Linked DNA regions of Homo sapiens: regions 1, 2, 4 and 5 are each reported to be linked to region 3. Evidence: microRNA targets listed by miRTarBase, many of them from high-throughput screens and not tested one by one. Region 3 holds a microRNA gene; each other region holds the end of a gene's coding sequence. Distances are from middle to middle.

The links. The annotated mature microRNA hsa-miR-1296-5p reads UUAGGGCCCUGGCUCCAUCUCC and lies in region 3 at 1,960-1,981, opposite strand. An mRNA with a match to its seed (bases 2 to 7 or 8) in the 3' UTR can be bound and repressed. Matches are read on the target gene's strand: a 7mer-m8 pairs with bases 2 to 8, a 7mer-A1 pairs with bases 2 to 7 and ends in A, and an 8mer does both.
Region 1: the mRNA of HCFC1 is a reported target of hsa-miR-1296-5p. The part of its 3' UTR that is shown has no 7-base or 8-base seed match.
Region 2: miRTarBase lists PAF1 as a target of hsa-miR-1296-5p. The part of its 3' UTR that is shown has no 7-base or 8-base seed match.
Region 4: miRTarBase lists IFNGR2 as a target of hsa-miR-1296-5p. The part of its 3' UTR that is shown has no 7-base or 8-base seed match.
Region 5: miRTarBase lists BMS1 as a target of hsa-miR-1296-5p. The part of its 3' UTR that is shown has no 7-base or 8-base seed match.

What each region holds. Positions count from the first base shown.
Region 1 is chrX:153,946,129-153,950,128 of GRCh38, forward strand. It overlaps HCFC1 (host cell factor C1), which reads right to left. Exons shown (of 26, transcript NM_005334.3): 25 at 3,425-3,488; 26 at 1,429-3,258. The coding sequence ends at 3,219. Among named protein-coding and RNA genes, the nearest start is that of RENBP, 3.5 kb to the left of the region's middle. RefSeq lists an enhancer at 1,597-2,136.
Region 2 is chr19:39,382,505-39,386,504 of GRCh38, reverse strand. PAF1 (PAF1 component of Paf1/RNA polymerase II complex) reads left to right here. Exons shown (of 14, transcript NM_019088.4): 13 at 1-23; 14 at 102-876. The coding sequence ends at 514. It overlaps SAMD4B (sterile alpha motif domain containing 4B), which reads right to left. Exons shown (of 14, transcript NM_001384574.2): 13 at 3,214-3,297; 14 at 805-3,006. The coding sequence ends at 2,978. Among named protein-coding and RNA genes, the nearest start is that of PAF1, 6.6 kb to the left of the region's middle.
Region 3 is chr10:63,371,053-63,375,202 of GRCh38, forward strand. MIR1296 (microRNA 1296) reads right to left here and starts at 1,996; the gene lies at 1,905-1,996. All of the region lies in intron 2 of JMJD1C (jumonji domain containing 1C), which reads right to left.
Region 4 is chr21:33,436,263-33,440,262 of GRCh38, reverse strand. It overlaps IFNGR2 (interferon gamma receptor 2), which reads right to left. Exons shown (of 7, transcript NM_005534.4): 7 at 2,747-3,435. The coding sequence ends at 3,301. It also overlaps a transcript of TMEM50B not described here. Among named protein-coding and RNA genes, the nearest start is that of IFNGR2, 35 kb to the right of the region's middle.
Region 5 is chr10:42,830,822-42,834,821 of GRCh38, forward strand. It overlaps BMS1 (BMS1 ribosome biogenesis factor), which reads left to right. Exons shown (of 23, transcript NM_014753.4): 23 at 45-4,000. The coding sequence ends at 275. It also overlaps the pseudogene RNU6-885P. Among named protein-coding and RNA genes, the nearest start is that of LINC02623, 39 kb to the right of the region's middle.

The DNA of each region.
Region 1 (4,000 bases), not on the chromosome of region 3:
GCTCAGGGGATGAGCTTTGTGCCCAGCCGGGCTGTATCTACCTGCCCTGCTCACAGGCCTGTCATGTTCACATTCATGTCCAGCCTCCCTCCTGCCTCCCCAGACTGAGTGGTGCCCTCAGACGGAAACGCGGTATTTTCAGATAAACACCAGAGGCATGACTGATGTGGCCCTTGCCTTGTGGAGTGTGATGCAGCCGCGGTGAGACAAGTGAGCTGAAGGAATGCGGAGGGTGGGTAGCCCCACAGGTGCCAGCTACAGAAGTGGGGTAGGAAGAAGCCTTGTACCACCCCCACCAGGCGAAGCGCCCACAACGCCATTTGCCAAAGGTATGGCAAATCCGCAAGGCCCCTCGGTTCTGGGGCCAGCCCCATGTGGCCCCTGGCCTCCACCAGCCCCAGCCATGACTCCTACCGCTCTGCTCTGAAGGACACTTTCCCACCCCTCTCCTTGGGCCTCTGCGAGGCTAGGCTCCAAGGCAGGTCACAGTTGGTGCGGTGGGTAAGACAGAGCCATGGCTCCTGGTGTCAAGCCCTGGCCAGTCTGCTTCCCCCCACCCCCACATGACACAGCAGACCCCACAGGACAGAGGCTTCCCAGAAGAGGTCGCATTCGACAGGGCCTTGCACACACACCCATGCCACAGGTGGAGACACGGAGGCTTTGGTTACTCCAGGAGCTTCTGGTAGCGGAGTGCCTGGGTGCTCTGAGAGGAAGGCTGGGCAGTAGAGGTGTGTAGGGGAAACAAAGGCAGGCGGCAGGGGCTTGGAGGGGGCGGGGAATGCAGGTGCGCCAGGAGCACCAGGCCCCAGAAGCAGGGTGTCACTCCCCTCAGACCCGCCTAGGCCTGTGCTGCTCCGGCCACCTTGCCCCGGAGCTTTCTGGGCCTCCTGGTACAAATTCAGCCCACGGGATCCCAGCTGTCCTACCGACCCAGCTGCTAGGTGGTCAGTCTGGATCACAAGCTCTTGCTTCTTCCCCTTGGGGGCATGGCTCACATTTAAGAGGAAGCCAGAGGAAGGGATCCACCTCTGCAGTACCCGTGGTGTACTTGACTCAGCCCACCTCCCCCCAACCCACCCAAGGAGGCTGCCGCTGGTGACCTGCCAGGCCCTTGCCCCATCCTATCCTCTAGTGCAGGAGGGGAGGGAGGGAGATCTGGGCCCCAGACACAGGAAGTCAGCAGCAGCTGCCCAAGGGGCTCTTTGGCCCTTGCCCTGCAAGGCAGCTACCAAGCAACCTGCTGGACCCTGGTCCGACTTGGTCCAAAGACCGGAGGCCACAGCAGAGGCCTCACTCTGGGGCCTTCTACGCTTTCACCAGAGCTCAGGTCTCCCTCCAGGGGGCTCCCGTGAGCCTCGGGCAGGTCTCAGCCTTCCCGCTCAGGCTTCCTGAGAGGATGCCGGGACACAGTGAGACACCTAGTGGTTATTTCAAAAAAAGTCTTTTAATTGTTCAAAATAGCACAAAACGACATCGCACTATGGTAATATTGAGTCACAGGGGTTACTCTACAATAGTGAACGGTGTACTCTCCTCAGAAACAAATCAATAGGCGCGCGAGAGAAGGGATGGGGTAAAACAACAGGACCAGGTGAGTGGGCTCCAAGGTGACTAAACGTGACATTTTCCACAGCGAAATATACTATAATACAACAAACCAGAGGCCCTGGAGGACACAGGCTGCTGCGTCTCCAGGCAGAGGTCGGTAGGGGAGGGCTGGAAAGATTGGCTGCTCGGTTCAAATCCTTCTGACTTGCTGGCAAGCCTTGCTCCTCGACAGAAGTTTGGGGTGGGGGGCAGAAAACTCCAAGCAGATCCCCCAGCCTCGGAGCCTGGCCTGAGTTCCATGCTGCACAGCTGCTGCTGGTGGCCTGCTCCATTGCCCTAGCCTCCCTTGTGGGTGACACTACACAGTCACCCTCCCAAGCTGCCTCCAAGGACGCCTGGTTCCCCTCCATTCTCCACCCTTTCCATGACGATTTGGGGGAGGTGGAGCAGTGGCTGCGGAAACCAGCAGCCCTGTTTGGGAGGCGGTGCCGGTGGTGCTCAGGGAGGGGGCATGGGGAGAGCTGGAAATCCAGGACAAGGAGGCCCCAGCCCTCCCTCAAGCTCCCCTAGGCTCGACCCTATAGATGCGGAGTGATCGCCCATGAGGAATGAGCTGTCCTTCCTTTGTTCCAGCGGCCTGAGGACAGGCAAAAGGGCAGAGGGCAGGGGCCAGCAACAGGAAGTTGGGCTGGGTGGCAAACAGCAGGCCCCTCGTGGCAGATTTCACACCTCTCCTGCCCTGGCTGGCCCCAGCTTTTCCTCCAGAAAGATCCCTGCCAAGAATTAGCCAAGAAGAAAAAAGTAAAAAAACAAAAACAAAACAAAACAAAACAAAAAAAAGAGAAAAGAAAAAAGATTACACATTCTGTACACAGCTAACAACAACAAAAAAGGGACAAAACCCCACACGCTAAAATTACAATGAAAGTGTGAACTTCACCAATTGCAACCTAAAAAACACAACAAATGCAGCAGTTGGCAGTGCGGCCTGCAGGGAGGTCTGCACAGGCGCTGCCCAGGCCGCCGCGGGGCTCCTTGCCCCTTTTTTCTTTTTCCTTCTTTTCTTTTTTAAAATGGGAAAGAAGAGGGGGAGGGTAGAAGAGGTGGGAGCACAAAGGCCTCTGAGAAAATGTGTAAGCTTCCTGTGGGGTCACTGAGCAGGGTGGGCCGGGGGAGCCTGAGGAAGGGAAGTTAGGTGACTGGAAACACAAGGGGAAGAAAAGAAAACAGAACCAGACACCCAGGCCAGGGTGCCAGGAAAGCCACTCTGGGGAGGGCCAAGAGGGACGCCTTTCCTCCCCTCCATGCCTGCCCCCGACCTGGCCCTCAGGAACGCACAGCCTTGGGAGGGCGGAGCTGGCTGTCCTCAGCTCCGCCTTCCCTCCCCGCAAAAGTCTCTCCCCAGGGTGGGCGGCAGCGGGGAGGAAAGGAAGCGCGCTCCTCTCTCTGCTTTCCCATCTGCCTCTGCTTCCTCCCAACAGCAATGGTAAAATGTGCTTTCTTTAGATTATTTTAAAAACAGAGAGAAAGAGAAAGGGGAGAGGAGTGAACAGCGGCTCGCGAGGGTGAAGTGCGAATGCTGGGACGGGGTGGGAGGGGTGGGCCCTGGCGGGTGTTCCTGAAGCAGGGGGGTCTGGAGAAGAATCCAGGGGCTAGTCAGCTTCCTCTCACTGACCATCGGCCTTAGATTTCTTTGGAGCAGATTTCCTTGGAAGGCAGAAAAAGGAAAGAGAAAGTTAGTGTGGGCCCTGCACCACTGGAGGCCCTGCTGGTGCAGGGCCGGTTAGGGGCCCCCAGTCATTTGACAAGAGGCTGAACCCAGCTATTTCCACCCCTAGTCTCAGAAGGTTCCCGAGAGGGGCTTCCTGCTTACATTTCTGGAGAGGACATGGGCCGCTTGTTGGCTGGCTTGGTGCCAGAGCTGTCTTTACTGGTTTCTGGAAGGAACGGGAGAGATGCGTGAGCAGCATTGTGACAGAACGAGAGCAAGGAACACATGCGCCCTGCCCGCCTGCAGAGTCTCTTGGTGCCACATGGCATGACCCGCAGCTGGCAAGGGTGGGGCGCCTGCCCTATGGGTGGTCACCTTTTACGCCACTCCTTGGGACCAGAACACGACACCACTCACTCCCCTCTGGACGTAGGTTAGAAACCCACTCAGCTCAGCTCCCACCTCTCACTGCCCTCCCAGGTCCCAGAGCCCCAGGGGAGCTGGAGCAGGAGCATGACCTGACAGGAGGCAGGCTGGCCTCCATCCCTCACCTGCTGCACTCCAGGGACCTGGGACGTGCTGTTTTCGGGCCTGGAAACCTACACTTTCCCGCCAGCCCTCTCACTGCTTGTCCCCTCAAACATCCTGGGGTGGCGTCCCCTGCACCCCCAGGCCCGGAGCTGGGTCCCCTGCTCTACTTGATGGCCACCCCCGTGGGGGGCTGTGTGCGCGCCAAAG
Region 2 (4,000 bases), not on the chromosome of region 3:
AGAGAAAGAAGCTGGGGGCTCAGGTAAATCTGGACAGGCCAGACTCTGGGAGCCCTGGGAGGGTGGAAAAGTGGGTTTCATCTCTCTCCACTCCCTTCCAGATGAGGAGCAGGAGAAGGGCAGCAGCAGTGAGAAGGAGGGCAGTGAAGATGAGCACTCGGGCAGCGAGAGTGAACGGGAGGAAGGTGACAGGGACGAGGCCAGTGACAAGAGTGGCAGTGGTGAGGACGAGAGCAGCGAGGATGAGGCCCGGGCTGCCCGTGACAAAGAGGAGATCTTTGGCAGTGATGCTGATTCTGAGGACGATGCCGACTCTGATGATGAGGACAGAGGACAGGCCCAAGGTGGCAGTGACAATGATTCAGACAGCGGCAGCAATGGGGGTGGCCAGCGGAGCCGGAGCCACAGCCGCAGCGCCAGTCCCTTCCCCAGTGGCAGCGAGCACTCGGCCCAGGAGGATGGCAGTGAAGCTGCAGCTTCTGATTCCAGTGAAGCTGATAGTGACAGTGACTGAGTCCCAGGGCATTCAGGGCTGGTTCAGACACCATTATTGTGAGCAGCAAAGCACTTTTCTAGTGGTCTGTTTGTGAGCCTTTCACTTGTTTGTTCCCCACCCCCAAACCTTTGCTGTTAATAAAGTCAACTTCTCTTTACTTCCCCTCCCAGCCCCTATGATGTCATTCAGCCCAGCACATACCTCCCGCAACCCCCAGGTGCTCAAGGATCTTGGCTTGAGGCTTAGAAACACAGGCCAGAGGCAGGGCCAATGGTTTCCCACAAAATGTAGCACAACGAAGGTCAGAATTCGTTTTTTTTGTTTGTTTTTTTTTTTTCCAAAATAAGCCCAGACCATTAAACAAGTGAAACTCCAACAAATAAGTCTTCTCCAACAGCGAGAAAAACTGTACAGTTACTCAAAGCTGATTCTGCCAGTGGGGCCGGGGACAGAAGTGGGTAGGGAGGGTGAAATCATGGAGGAGGGCCTGGGGAGGGGGCTGGAGCGGGAGAGGGTCAGGGTCCTGCCCATCAGAGTGGGGCCGCCTGCGTCCTGCACACTCTGCTGTCAGGTGGGGTGGGGGGCAGCTCTTGCCTCCCTGTGTGTGTGAGACGGTGTCCCTCACCACCTCCCAGTGCCAGGCACAGTCAGCTCACCCTGATGGAGAGTGAACAAGACAGGACAGGCTGGGGAGAGGGGAGGGTCCCATGAGAGGGACACCCTGCTGATTCCAAACGAGGTGGCCCATCCATCCCACTTCCTGCAGCTAGTGGGAGGGGGACTGGAGAAGCCCTGGGAGATTGAGGGGATGAGCAAAGGCACAGAAACATGGAGGGCCGGGGTGGGGGACTTGCATAGGTTGATGAGTGTGCAAGAGGTACATAAATAAACCTGACACCCCACCCAGCCCGGCACTGGGAGAGGAAGTGGGGACCCAGAGCCAGGTTCCCAGGGCCACCCTACCCCCTGGCTTCTTCCCCCTCCCTGGGCTCAGAGCAGAGGGAAGTCCACAGACCAGGAGGGCGGGGGCAAGAAGGTCTGGGGAATGGGGTGATAGTGCAGGGAGGGTGGTGGTTTTAAAATTTTTTTTTTTTTTGTTTTTTTTGTTTTTTTCCCAACATTTTGTATCTTTAATAACATACACAATGGTTACCAGCCATATTCATAACAAAAGTTATTCATAAAATGTATCTAAAAATAACATTTTTTTTCCTTTTCGGTGTGAAAAGCTTGAGAATGTCCCAGTTGGGAAGGTGGGTTGAGGGGGAGGAGGGCGTTGAAGAGGGAGACCCTGGCTTCCCCGCAGTCTGAACCCCCAAATCCCCTCCCTCCACCTGGGCCCCAACACAACCCCTCATTAGGAATAGGGACCAGACAGTCTGTCGGACTCTGGGGCTGGGACGAATCTCTGGGTTATGATATAGTGTTCCACTTAAGTGAGGTCATGACATAATGGGGGAAGGAAAAAGGCTGAAAGAAAAGGGAGGGGCTTAGGGAAAAACCCAAAAACCAAACAATCCCCTTTCCCTTATTCCTGACTCCCAAGTCTCACCAACCAGACCTGGGAGCGGAGAAGGGTGTGTGTTCGTGGGGAAGGGGACGTTAAGGCAACAGACTTCCTGACCTCACTGGCTACCCTGGCTGCCCACCTCCAACCTCTTCATCCGGGTAGCCAGGGCTGGAGGAAAATGGGTTAGAGCTTGAGGGTCTGGAGGAGGGGGCTCTGCCCTCTCCCCTCATAAAGTTCAGGCTCTCCCTGCCACTGTCTTGGCTGAGAGAGACCTGGGGATTCTAAAAATGAGAGGAAATGATCAGAGAAAAACCGTTAAGAACTATATAAATATGTATCTTAAATAGGCCTAAGAAATTAATCATAGAGAACCTCTGGTGAACAGGGCCAGGGGAGGTGAGAGAGAGGAAGGTGGCTCCTGTCCTTGCAGAATGTGGGGAATGGTGAAGGGGAAGCAGGGAGAGGAGAGAGAGCTTCCTCTCCTTGCTCCCCTTCCTTCTCCCCAGCTCCTCTCAATAACATTCTGGAGGGCAGGTTCTCTGCCCTGCGCGTCACCCCAAATGTCAAATGTTTCTGAGCAGGCTCCACAAGGTAGTGGTCAGTTTGTCTCTGGGGAGTCTGCTCCCTTGGGGAGAGGCAGGTGGTCAGCGGTCTGGAGGAGGCAGGGGTGGGATGGGACCAGGTGGGGATGAGGAAGGAAAGGAGAGAGGCAGGCAGTCTGGCCAGTCCCTGCCCCCTTTATCCTGGCTGCCCCCAACTCCCCGGGCCTCAGCAGAGATCCCTCGACGGGCCTGGGAGTGAGCAAGGCATGTGCCAATGTTAAACAAAAGTTAAGAGGGTAAGAGAGTAGAAAAATATTAGAATATATAGCTGAGCCAGCCCACCCTCTCGCTGTCGCGGAGAAGCCCGTTGGGGGTTGGCCCCCGCCCGCCGCCCAGGGAGCCTATGGGTGCGCTGGGCTGTGGGTCCCGTCAGATGGTGGAGGTTTTGTCTGTCCCATCTGTGGTAAGAAAGGGAGGAAGGGAGGAAGATCAGGAGCTGGAGGGAGGCCCAAGAAAAGGCACTCAGGTAGCCTGTCATCCCAGTCAGGCCCTCCCTGGAGTCTGGCCTCCCCTGGGGACCCCTCAGGATGACTCTGAGTTGCTCAGTTCAGAGGCAGAGACGCTGGGTAGGTGGGAGCTGGGTCAGGGAAAGAGGAAATGCTCACCACCCAAGGCGTGTTCTGTCATGCTCAGACACAGAGACTCCAGAGTGGGATTGATCTCCAGGTCAGGCCCAGGAACCGGGCAGTCTGGGTGGGAGAGAGGAGAATGGGGGTGGTAAGGACCAACTGGACTCAGGTGAAGACAGCTGGGATGACAAAGGATGCTGGTATGGGAAGGGAGCAAGAGAGATGGAGGGGGAGAGGGAAGAACGGGAGGAGGTGGACAGGGAGAGAGGCGAGCGTGTCACACAACAGGCAGAGGAGACAATGGCAATGGCAGAGGCTTGGCAATACAGAAAAAGCCCGACTTGCAGAGAGTGGAATTGAAACTGAAGGAGCTCCTGGAGGCCACACACAGCCTGCTGTGACTACTCTGGACACAGACTGCATACTGTCTTGAGCACAGTCTGGGCATCTGCCCTGGACACTGGGCAGCCCCCAAGGCTCCCTGATTGAAGACCTGCTCTGTACTTGGTGCAAAAGCTAAATCAAAACCCTTCCTGTCCCCACTTGGACCTGCTCCTCTGGGCAGGATTCAATCCAGGCAGGCCAGGCAGGTGGGGGCAAAGTAGGACAACCACCATGGGACTTGTCCTCAAACCACACTTCTCAAAAGGGCCTCCTATTCGGGCATCTGGGAAACCACCCACCTCCCTGGGCAGACCTGACCTCCCTCACTACACTGCTTAAACCCTTCCCTGACTCCTCACTGCCATCAGGACAAAGTCCGAGCTGTTTACCTGGATTTAGACGACCCAGCTCCCATCTCCACCCTCATCTCTCATCACTG
Region 3 (4,150 bases):
CCATAGCCTTGTACTCCTGGAGTCAAGCAATCCTCCCACCTCAACCTCCTGAGTAGCTGGGACTACAAGGCTTGCGCCACTACAATAGGCTAATTTTTTTTTTTTTTTGGTAGGGATGAGGGTATAGCTATGCTGCCCTGGCTGGTCTTGAACTCCTGGACTCAAGCAATTCTCCCGCCTCAACCTCCCAAAGTGCTGGGATTATAGGCATGAGCCACTGTCCCTGGTCTATAAGACTTTTTAAATACATAATTCTAGTGCTGATGTAATTAATTTTTTTTACTTAAATTTTCTCTACATTTTCCTAAAGTATGTACAATTATCACTTTTAAAGCTGCATAATATGCCAAAATATTAATTTAACAGCATTCACAAATTGTTGAACATCAAGGTTGTTCCATTTTTCTTTTCCTCTTTAATAAGACTGCAATAAACATCTTTCTTCTAATAACATTAAACCTTTCATTTTTTTAATCTGCAGCTCCCACCACAGTGTCTAATTCGTATGAGGTACGTGACAAACATTAGCTAAACTGAATACACTTTTTAAAAACTGTTTTTCAAGCATCGTTTCCTAAGACTAGAATTAATGAATCAAAGAGTATGAACTTCTTATGGTTCTTATAACATAATACTTTCCAAAAGAATAATGTCATTTTATAATCCACAAGATATGAGTGTGTGAACTCGTTCATTGCAATACATGCCAGTATTAGAGTTTATCATTTAAAAAGCTTAATATTTTATTATGTATAATTTGATCTCTTAAAGTGCTTTACCTTGTAGAGAAATAACAATCCTGAAGTTATATTGTCATTACTTCCATTTCATTATTTAACAAAGTACAAAAAGACATGCAACTGTTTATTCTAATTGTGGAAATTCAATTATAAATATGTAAAAACTCTTTAAATGAACATACTCCAAAGTTTATTTCTGACTTGGAAGGTGGCATATTTTCACATTTTAGTAAAATTTGCTTGAGGCCATAATCTAAACCAACTTTGATAACTGCTGGATATAAAGGTAATCTTGTCCCAAAGAGCAGTGAACTCTATTCTCCTTTGAGGGGGTTTCTTTTGGAACAGATAGTAAGTAAAAAGCACTCTAAGAGAATATTTTAAAATAAATAAATTGCTAAGAGTTTACGTGTTTATGATGTCATCACAATTCCTGGTTGAACCAGAATTGCCTATCTATGAAGGAAAAGCTACATTGAGAAAAAGTAGTCTGAGTTTCCTAAAACTCAATTCAGAAATTCAAGTAAATTATCAAAGATTTGAATATTTAAGTCAATTGTGAGGACTTCTGTTTCTTCCTTTAACATCTTTAAAATAACGCATTTCAGGTAATTTTACATTTTTCCCCTTGGTGATTTCAGGAATCAAATTTGTACCTGATGAGAATTGGCATTATAAGCTTTTTAGTATTTTTTATTATATATTGACATGTTTAAAATTGGTAACTCACAGTTTTACCACAATTGGGTGATTCTGCTTTCCTGTCCTTTGATATTATCATATGTTAATAGTCAGAAAACTTGTGATAACTCCCAGTAGGGTTCTTTTTCACTAGCTGGGTTGCAGCACATTCATCACTTTAAAATAAGAATTTACTTTCTGAGATGGGTAAAGCACTGTGCTAGACTCCAAGGAACCATACATAGATGACTAAGACATGACTCCTGTCCTCAAAGAACTTACAATCTATTAAGGGAAGACAGACATGCAAACAAATAGGTATAATACAAAGCAGAATGTGCTGATTGTTAAAACAGAGGTACAAAACAAAGTTCTATAGGAGCACAGGATGGTTATATAGGAGCACTGGTTGGGGTGATCTGGAAGGCTGGGCCAGCGGAAAAGTAGTAGAAAACTCTGCCCCTTAGAAAACACAGCAGTGTTACAGCCCACCTGGGTTAGGGTCGAAGCCCCACTCCCCACAGAAGGTTTTCCTAAAGGAGATGGAGCCAGGGCCCTAACCCAGTTAGGTAGGTGATTCGTTGATTTCAATTATGAATGCCAACACTTTCTTTCCCTGGTGCCGATAAATGTGCTTTCACAAGTATTTTACTTTATTAAAAAGTAAATAAAATTTAACAATCTATTAAGTAACTTACATGAAGACGCAAGTTACCTCAGCCTACAGCATTAGAATGGCCTCAAGTGGTACTCTGATTGTACAGGACCAAGCAAAAAAAGACACCACTTCAGCATCTTACATGTGGTGCTCCCATAAATGTTTTGCTACTGATATCCTAGAAAGAAAGAGGAACCAGACAATTCCAGAGAAGGAGCCTGGGTATTATACTATTCATATTTTGCTGAAGATGCAATTATGTTAAGTTTTAAAAAATATACTTTAAAATATGTTAATGAGACAACAGGATTTGTTTTTGTCTTGTCATGATCTCAAGAAACAGCAGGTACACTGCCAGTTTCCACTAATTTCTAGGTATAAGAGGTAGACAAGATAACGTAACTGATATGTAATATTAAACAAGTACCACACGAGGAGTGAAACAACTAGAAAGAAGATAATAAATACAAACATGTTTAAATACAAAAGAACATAAAGCAAGTATCATGTGCACAGAAATAGAAACATTAAATTTGTAGAAAATTAAAGACAAAGTATTAGTTTCTACTGTTTCATTCTATTGCCATCTCATATACAGATCCCTCAAATTTCTCAAATCTGTAGATATAGTATTTCATTACGCTGTAGGAATTTTAAAACGCTTAACTTTATAATTGCTGTTTATAGACATCCTTAAAGAAGCCAAATTTTAATGAACAAAAAAGGAAACAATAAAATCTCAGTCATATCAACTGTATATAAATGTTTGCAAAATGCTTATGAAACTTAAATTGACTATTTTCTTAATTATTACAAACAAGCATTCTCACTTCACTTGTTTATTAATTTTTACAATCTCCTAAAACAAAAGAAAAAAGGAAGGAAGGCAAGCACACATAACCTGACTACTGGAATTAATGACAATATCCCATTGCATAGACTTTAAAATAAACATACAATTCAAAAAGACTTACTATCAAACAACTGGCTAAGCAAACTATGAAATATGACAAAAAGGTTATAATATCTGTAATAATATAAAGAAAGCTCATAACAAATATAAAAAACTCAAAACCCTAATAAGTACTAAATAACAATTCACTAAAAATACAAGTTGCTCATAAACATGAAAAAAATTCACCCTATTAAAGGAATGCAAATTGAAACAACGAAATATTATTTTCAAATATCCAATTAGCAGAGAAAGAGTAACATTCAATGCTGCATCCCCTTAGGATGTAAAACTCCTCCTGTTTTGGCCAAATATTTGTGTTTTAAAACAAGATAAACTGCAAATAAATAATTAATGCTTACAAGGGTGTGATGAGTGAGATAAAAACACCCCAACACTGACTGAGGACAATGGCAGTCAGTACAACCTTTACACAATTTGTGAAGAGTGTCAGGAGATAGATTTTTGTGGCTTTCAAGTTCATACCCTGTGATTATTAATTCTACTACTATGAATATACATTTTAAAAAATCAGAGATGCAGACAAAGGCTTGCAATGGTATTTATCCCAGTTGCTTATAATGCTCCCTAGAACTGGAAACTACAATGTCAAACATTAAGGAAATGGGTCATTATAAGATTAAATATTATGCAGCCATTAAAAATGATCCTAAATTACTACTCATGAAGAGAAATGTAGAGGATAGATGTTAGGCAAAAAAGCAGGATCTACAATTTTAATGCAGTGTTAGCTAAAACTATGTTTAAAAGAAGGCAGAGATTTTGTACTTGCTAATTTGCCAAATTCATTTATTAGTTCCAGTAGGCTTTGTTGTGAAGTCTTTATGGTTTTCTAAGTATAAGATTATATCATCTGTGAACAGACACAATTTTACTTCTTTCTTTCCAATTTAAATGCTATTTGTCTTTTTCTGGTCTAATTTCTGGACTATAACTTCAAATACTATGTTGAGTGGACATGGCAAAAGCAGGGATCCCTTGTCTTATTCTTGATCTTAGAGGAAAAGCTTTCAGTCTTTCACCATTGACTAGGATATTACCTAAGCAACAGGATATGAAATCAACACATAAAAATTGGCTTTTTTTTTTTTTTTTTTT
Region 4 (4,000 bases), not on the chromosome of region 3:
AATATCATAGAATTTTCATGTGTGATGAAATATTCTTCTTTTGACTTTAACTATTCCAAGATGTAAAAGCTATTCTTAGCACACGGGTTTTACAAAAACAGGGAATGGGCTGATTTGGCAAGTAGGTTATGGATTATGCCCTGTCAACGGATTATTTATAAGAGTGCTTCCAACTCAAAAATTTTGACAATGTACTTAGCTTGACTTTATTTTTCTTGAGACAGAGTCTTGCTCTGTTGCCCAGGCTGGAGTGCAGAGGTGCCATGTCAGCTCACTGCAACCTCCGCTTCTCGGGCTCAAGTGATTCTCCTGCCTCAGCTTCCCAAGTAGCTGGGATTACAGGTGTGAGCCACCACGCCCAGCTAATTTTTGTATTTTTAATAGAAACAGGTTTTCGCCATGTTGACCAGGCTTGTCTCAAACTCCTGACCTCATGATCCACCCACCTCAGGGTCTCAAAGTGCTCGGATTACAGGTGTGAGCCACTGCGCCTGGCCTTGACAGTGTAAATACTAATCCCATCAATTAGTCATTTATTTTACTAAGGAGAATGAGGCATTTCATTTCAGAAAATACTATTTAAGGCTGGGCACAGTGGCTCACACCTGTAATCCCAGCACTTTGGGAGGCTGAGGTGAGCGGATCACCTGAGGTCAGGAGTTTGAGACCAGCCTGACCAACATAGTGAAACCCCATCTCTACTAAAAATACAAAAATTAGCTGGGTGTGGTGGCGCACATCTGTAATCCCAGCTACTCTGGAGGCTGAGGCACAAAAATCGCTTGAACCCGGAAGGCAGAGGTTGCAGTGAAGTGAGATTGTGCCACTGCGCTCCAGCCTGGGCAACAGGGTGAGACTGTGTCTCTAAATAAATAAATGGGGTGGCACAGATGCACTTACCCTAACAGAGTTGATTTGCCCTCTGTCCTGCTGGGCTGAAACTCTTTCCTGTTCTCCTGCTATAGATGTATCCTCCACTCCTCGCTGGCCACCATCCTGCTGCCCAACAGAAGAAGCTCTTCTGTCTCCGATTTCCTGAACGGTCTAAGGTAAGTCTTTACAACTCCTATCTACAACTTCTTCCTCCAAACTTGTCTACTTAAGGTGCACCTAATGCATACAACAGATGCTTCACAGGGAGACTTGTGTGCATGGGGTGGGAGTGGGCCTTGTTTTTCTAACTCTTGCCACTGCAGACAGCATGGTACACAACACTTAAGAGAGTTAGCCACTTTTGCCGGACACGGTGGCTCACGCCTGTGATCTCAACCCTTTGGGAGACCAAGGTGGGTGGATCATGAGGTCAGGAGTTCGAGACCAGCCTGGCCAACATGGTGAAACCCCATCTCTACTAAAAATACAAAAATTAGCCAGGCATAGTGGTGCACGCCTGTAATCCCAGCTATTCGGGAGGCTGAGGCAGGAGAATTGCTTGAACCTGGGAGGTGGAGGTTGCAGCGAGCTGAGATCGCGCCACTGCGCTCCAGCCTGGGCGACAGAGTGAGACTCTGTCTCAAAAGAAAAAAAAAAAGCCACTTTCTTACCAGCAGTACAGGGCCCCAACTGCCTCCCATGTAGCTGGGATTATAGGTGCCTGCCACCACACTCAGCTAATTTTTGTGCTTTTAGTGGAGACAGGCTTTCACCATGTTGGCCAGGCTGGTCTCGAACTCCTGACCTCAGGTGATCTGCCTGCCTCGGCCTCCCAAAGTGCTGGGATTACAGGTGTGAGCCACCGTGCCCAGCCTATAAATGGATTTTAAATACATATCCTTTGAACAACAGAGCCCGACAGTACTGACACAATCAGATGACTTGCGTGCTCAGTAGATAACATTACTATTGATTAATCAGTTAATTCTCTTTATTGCCCACAAATCCCTGCCTTGGTCAACACAGTGTGACTTGTCACATATAAATGAAGTGCTAATGTGCCTTCTGCAAATCCCCCTTATAACTTTTATATTTTTGAGACAGGGTCTCTTGCTCTGTTGCCAAGGCTGGAATGTAGTGGTGTAATCATTGCTCACTGCAGCCTTGAACTCCTAACTCCTAGGCTCAAATGATCCTCTGGTCTCAGCCTCCTGAGTAGCTGGGACTACGGGTGTGCACCACCACGACTAGCTAATTTTTTATTTTTTGTGAAAACAAGGTCTCACTATGTTGCCCAGGCTGTTCTCAAACTCCTGGCCTCAAGCGATCCTCCCATCTTGACCTCCCAAAGTGCTGGGATTACAGGCATGAGCCACCATGCCCAGCCCTCTTTTTTTTTTTTTTTTTGAGATAGGGTCTCGCTCTGCCTCCCACGCTGGAGTGCAGTGGCATCATTTCGGCTCATGGTAACCTCCGCCTCCCAGGCTAAAGCATCCTCCCACTTTAGCCTCTCAAGTAGCTGGGACTACAGGTGCATGTCATCATGCCTGGATAATTTTTGCATTTTTCATAGAGACAGGGTTTCACCATGTTGCCCAGGTGGGTCTAGAACTCCTGGCCTCAAGTGATCCACCCACCTCAGCCTCCCAAAGTGCTGGGATTATAGGCGTGGGCCACTGCACTAGGCCCTGGCCTTCTTTATAACCTTTGGAGGATCAAGTGACATCCATAGGAAGTGTTTGCTGAGTTCCCATGAGGCCTCAGTAGCTCTAGCAGGTGTTATTTAAGAAAAAACAAGTTTAGATTGAGTAATTTTAGAAAGCTGAAACTCTGCAGAAAATAGGCTACAATAAAGAAAACACTTCACATAGACTTTAAAAAACATGCACTATACAATCTTTTATTTCCAGTTTAAAAACAAAATCTTAAATTACTAGGAGTATATTTACAAGATTAATTACATTTTAAGCCAGCACACCATGGATGTACATGAAGGGCCACTCGGTGTCCCTCGCTGGGACAGGTTGTGTGACCTGCCCAAGGGGCTCCGGCTCATTTGCCAAAGTCAAGACGACGACCAGGTCTTCTGACTGCTCAGCCCAACCAATAATGAAAAAAGTATCAGAGATGTGTCATATCCATTTTGCTAACAAGCAATTACATGCCTTTTTAGTGTTTAAGAGAAGCCTTAATTTTCCTGGGATATCTCCGTAAAATCATTCTGGAATTTGATTTTGAAAATTCTTTAAGAAAAAAAAAAAAAGCTTGTCACCCCCATGAGACCTGCTGTCTCTCATGTCTGCAGGGACAGGCCTTTTAGAGGCAGCAAAAGGGAATACTGGTCTCTGGAAAGTCCAGACAGAACTCTAGCAGCTCCGATGGCTTGATCTCTTCCAGGGAGCCAGTGGGCTAGGCCCATGCTTTGGTTCAAAGCGTTTGGAGAACATCTTCTTGCTCCTTTTCCGGAAACGAGATAATGGACACAGAGTCCCAGACGTCATCCTTTGGTGAGCTGTCCTTGTCCAAGGCCTCTAAGATGGGCTGAGTTGGGTCTTTTAAATACTTGAGGAGGTTGGAAAGCAAAATTGTAATTAGTTTACCAGTTCAGTATACCAGACCTTTTAACTTTAGTTTTTGTTTTTATTTTATTTTTATTTTTATTTTTTTTTTGAGATGGAGTCTTACTCTTGCCTAGGCTGGAGTATAGTGGTGTGATCTCAGCTCACTGCAACCTCTGCTTCCCAGGTTCAAGCGATTCTCCTGCCTCAATCCTCCAAGTAGCTGGGACTACAGGTGCCCACCACCTTGCCTGGCTAATTTTGTATTTTTAGTAGAGACAGGGTTTCACTATGTTGGCCACGCTGGTCTCAAACTCCTGATCGCAAATGATCCACCCACCTTGGCCTCCCAAAGTGCTGGGATTATAGGCGTGAGCCACTACGCCTGGCCTACTTTAGTTTTAATTGGTATAGTTATTTTATTCAGATATAAGTTGATTCTGTCCACCAATGACATAACTTATTTTTCTTTTTATTCAACAATGAAACAATTTTTTTTTTTTGAGACGGAGTTTCACGTTGTTGCCCAGGCTGGAGTGCAATGACACGATCTCATCTCACTGCAACCT
Region 5 (4,000 bases), 21 Mb from region 3:
TGTCTGAGAGCATTCTGATACTCACCGGCTTTTGTCCTTGTCAGATCCTTGCACTGCTGGATGCTCTGAGTACGGTGCATAGTCAGAAGATGAAGAAGGCCAAGGAGCAGCGGCACCTGCACAATAAAGAGCACTTCAGAGCCAAGCAGAAGGAGGAGGAGGAGAAGCTGAAGCGGCAGAAGGACCTCAGGAAGAAGCTCTTCAGAATTCAGGGGCAGAAGGAAAGAAGAAACCAGAAGTCCAGTTTGAAGGGGGCTGAGGGCCAATTGCAGTGAGCCTTTGGACTGGAGGGACTGTCCCTGGATCTGCGGAGGTAGACAGTTTCAAACATCACAGTTTGAATGCCTGTGAATGACAAGTCAGTGGGAAAGAGCTCAAGAGATGTCTCTACTCAAACTGTGCCTGCAGGAGGAGGAACAGAGAAGCCTGGGCTGCTGGGACTGGGTTCATTCTCATGACTTGGGGCTGTCGAGATTTAAAGTGATGTAAGCTGTGGTTATGTGGATTCTCTTACTTTCCTCTGCCTGCCTCAGTTTAATTATTTTGTCCTACAGAAATATCATTAAAATATTTTTTTGTTACTTTTGGCTTAGTAGTTTTCATTAGGGATGAATGCCTGACAATTCTTTGTGGATAATTATTTATACTACCACCTTCATGAGGAGTCTTCCAGAAGAGAAAGAAATATTCACTTGAACTCTGAGCTCCCATGGAAGATTTTAGAGAATAGTGTGTAGTGTTTTTGTTTTGTTTTTTGTTTGAGTGACACACAAACCTAGATGGTACAGCCTACTGTGCACCCAGGATCTATGGGCTCCTTTGATCACTGGCCCTTGTGGACATTTTCTATCTTATTTCATATGTTCTGCACATTAGTATAGTGACAAGGTAACAGTAAGTACTTTTTTAAAGCTTTAGACTTAGGAGATTATTGTCTCAGGTGCAGAGACCAAGGAAATCGTATGTATCAGTGAGATAGGCTTCCCGTATTATGCTCATGCGTTATACCTGCCTAGCTACATTGCCTTTTTTTAAATTAAACATTATGTTGAAGTAATCATACTATTACATAGGCGATGTATGTATTTTATGATTGTATGTTGATATAGTTATGGGGAATCTATTCCTATACGATGTAATCATAGATTCACATATAGTTGTATATTTTGCCCAATTTCTCTCAGTGGTAATGTTTCACACATATAACAATCAGGATGTTGACATCAATACAGCCCGCTGATTTTATTCACATTTCCCCAGCTTTACTTTCCCCAACGTATACTCCTCCATGTATGCATGGGTGTGTAGAAATATGGAACGCAGCTGGGCACAGTGACTCACGCCTGTAATCCCAGCACTTTGGGATGCTAAGGCAGGAGGATCACTTGAGCCCAGGAATTTGAGACCAACTTGGGCAACATGGCAAAACCTCATCGCTACAAAAAATAAAAAATTCGCCAGGTGTGGTGGGTGCACACCTGTAGTTCCAGCTGCTTGGGAGGCTGAGGTAGGAGGATCACTTGAGCTTGGGAGGTTGAGGCTGCAGTGAGCCATGATAGCACCACTGCACTCCAGCCTGGGCGACAGGGCAAGACCCTGTTTCAAAAAAAAAAAATTATACATATATGTATGTAGAACACTTCATGAATTTGTGTGTCATCTGTGCATGGGGCCCATGCTGACCTCTGTGTTGTGCCAGTTATAGTATGTGTGCTGCTGATATGAGTGCCACATTGCCTTTACAACATCATAGGGGCCAAAGAGGGTTGGCAGGATTATGAGCAGTTGGCCTAGTCTGAGAGGCTCTCTAAAAGCCTAAAGTCTGTAGGCAGGTGCTCAGCTTTGTATCTCCATAAGAAGGGAAGAGGATGTGAGGATCCTGTCAGGGCTAGGTCCACCTGGGAAGTGACAATTGGAACACTCCCAGACCTCTCTGGGCAACTCTGGGTGTACATTTTCCTCTGTTCCTCAAGAGCTATTATGAATTTCATCATCCATTATGCTGATAGGCCTGGGGACTGACACATAGTAAGCCCATAACAATTATAATTTAAAACTAATTTGTTATATAGCATAATTGATATATTTTAAAATGCAAAACTATAATTCAACTAAAATATACAAGGCACTCAAGTCATACCATGTTTTAAGTAGCTTACAAGGTGATCAGCAAGTGTCTTATACAACAAGCAAATTTGTTCAAAGAGAAGCATTGCAAATAAGTATTTATAATTGTATAGTTTTATATTTTAGCCAGAAGAGTGGAATCCTTTAGCAATGGGGGAAATAAAAGAATGTTTAATTACAGTTGCAGATAATTGCCTTTTCCAAAGACAATGTATGTAGGCAGAACTCATACCTGTTAATATTAAAAATCTTGGTTTATCATATTTGGAGAACAAGGGAAATAAAAAGTTTGCATATTAAGATTATTTAAACTAAAGTTAAGGAATCTCTAATGTCTGAAAGAAACAATAAATAGCATTTTTCATGTAGAATTTTTATTGGTGAAGGTTCCACCTGGCCAGGTTAGTAAAATACAGTCACACATCAGTTAAGGATGGGGATATATTCTGAGAAATGTATCATTAGGCAATTTTGTCATTGTGTAAACATCATAGAGTGACACACAAACCTAGATGGTACAGCCTACTGTGCACCTGGGCTCTATGGTATGGCCTGTTGCTCCTAGGCTACAAACCTGGGCAGCATGTGACTGTACTGACTACTGTAGGCAGTTGTAACACAGTGGTAAACATTTGTGTATCGAAACATAGAAAAGGCGTAGCAAAAATACAGTATTGTGGAACCACTGCCATATACGTGGTCCATCCTTGACTGAACATCATGCGGCATGTGGCTGTATGTATACACATAGTTTTTGCTGTGAGTTTGCATCCATCTCATAGGAAGACATATATCAAAATAAGGACCAGACTGGAGAGTGTGTAAATTACTTTTCAATACTAATGGCTTATTAATTTGATATTGTCAGCAAGTATGTTGCAAAAACAAATTCCACCAGAATGTGAGTTCCATGAGAGCAGGAACTGGGTTGTTCACCTTGTTGGCACTTGGAGTAGAGCCACTGAGCTTCGTGCTGCATAAAATTGCTTGGAAGAAAGAAGGGAGGGCATTCCAGGTAACTGAAGCATTGCTATGCAAAGTAAGCATTTGCCCTCTGAAATATTTTAACAATGTTTATAGAAACCTTTCTCAATTGTATTAAACTTTGTAAATTGTAAAAATTATTCTGTTATACCTTTTCTATTTACTAGGCACAGGCAGCCATAGGTGCTAGGTATGTTTTGAAAACATATTGAACCTACAGTGTACATATCATTCCATGCCATTAAATATTCTTATTTAATCATAGATGTGTTCAGGTGTGTTTGGTTTCCTATTTGTGGATGTACTAGATTGTTTTCTTTTTTTAACAAAACCTGTGAACTTGCTTTAAGTATTATCATTTGGTGACATGCCCGCCATTTCAGAAATAAATGTTTGAGCAAAGAGGAAAGCCACCGGGTCTGATTCAGCTCTCTGGAGGCTCCAGAGCTTACCTCGCTGATGGGAAAAAGAGCATCGATTTAATTGCCCTTGGTACCGACTTCTAGTATCTAGTATTTTGCCAGACTCAGGTATTTCTTAAAGCCATTATTCAGAGTCTTCAGCAAGGACATTGTATTTTACTTGTGTCTCCTTAGTTTTACCTAGTTTATTTCATGGTTTTAAAGTATTGTACATTTTTATAATCCTTTAACAAGACAAAAGGTTGAGATGTTGGACATTTAAATGCCAAAGGTGTTTTATTATGAGACTTAGCATTTCATATTTGGGGATGGTACCTTATCGAAAATCAGATAAACTTTGGTTGGATGGGTATTTGGAGGAATCTTTTAAGTCTTTTCTTAAGCAAAGTTTGGACACTCTAAAATAAGGTTGCCAACTGGCATGTAGAGAGAAAAGGATGTGTCATACATTTAGACCAGGTGGCCTG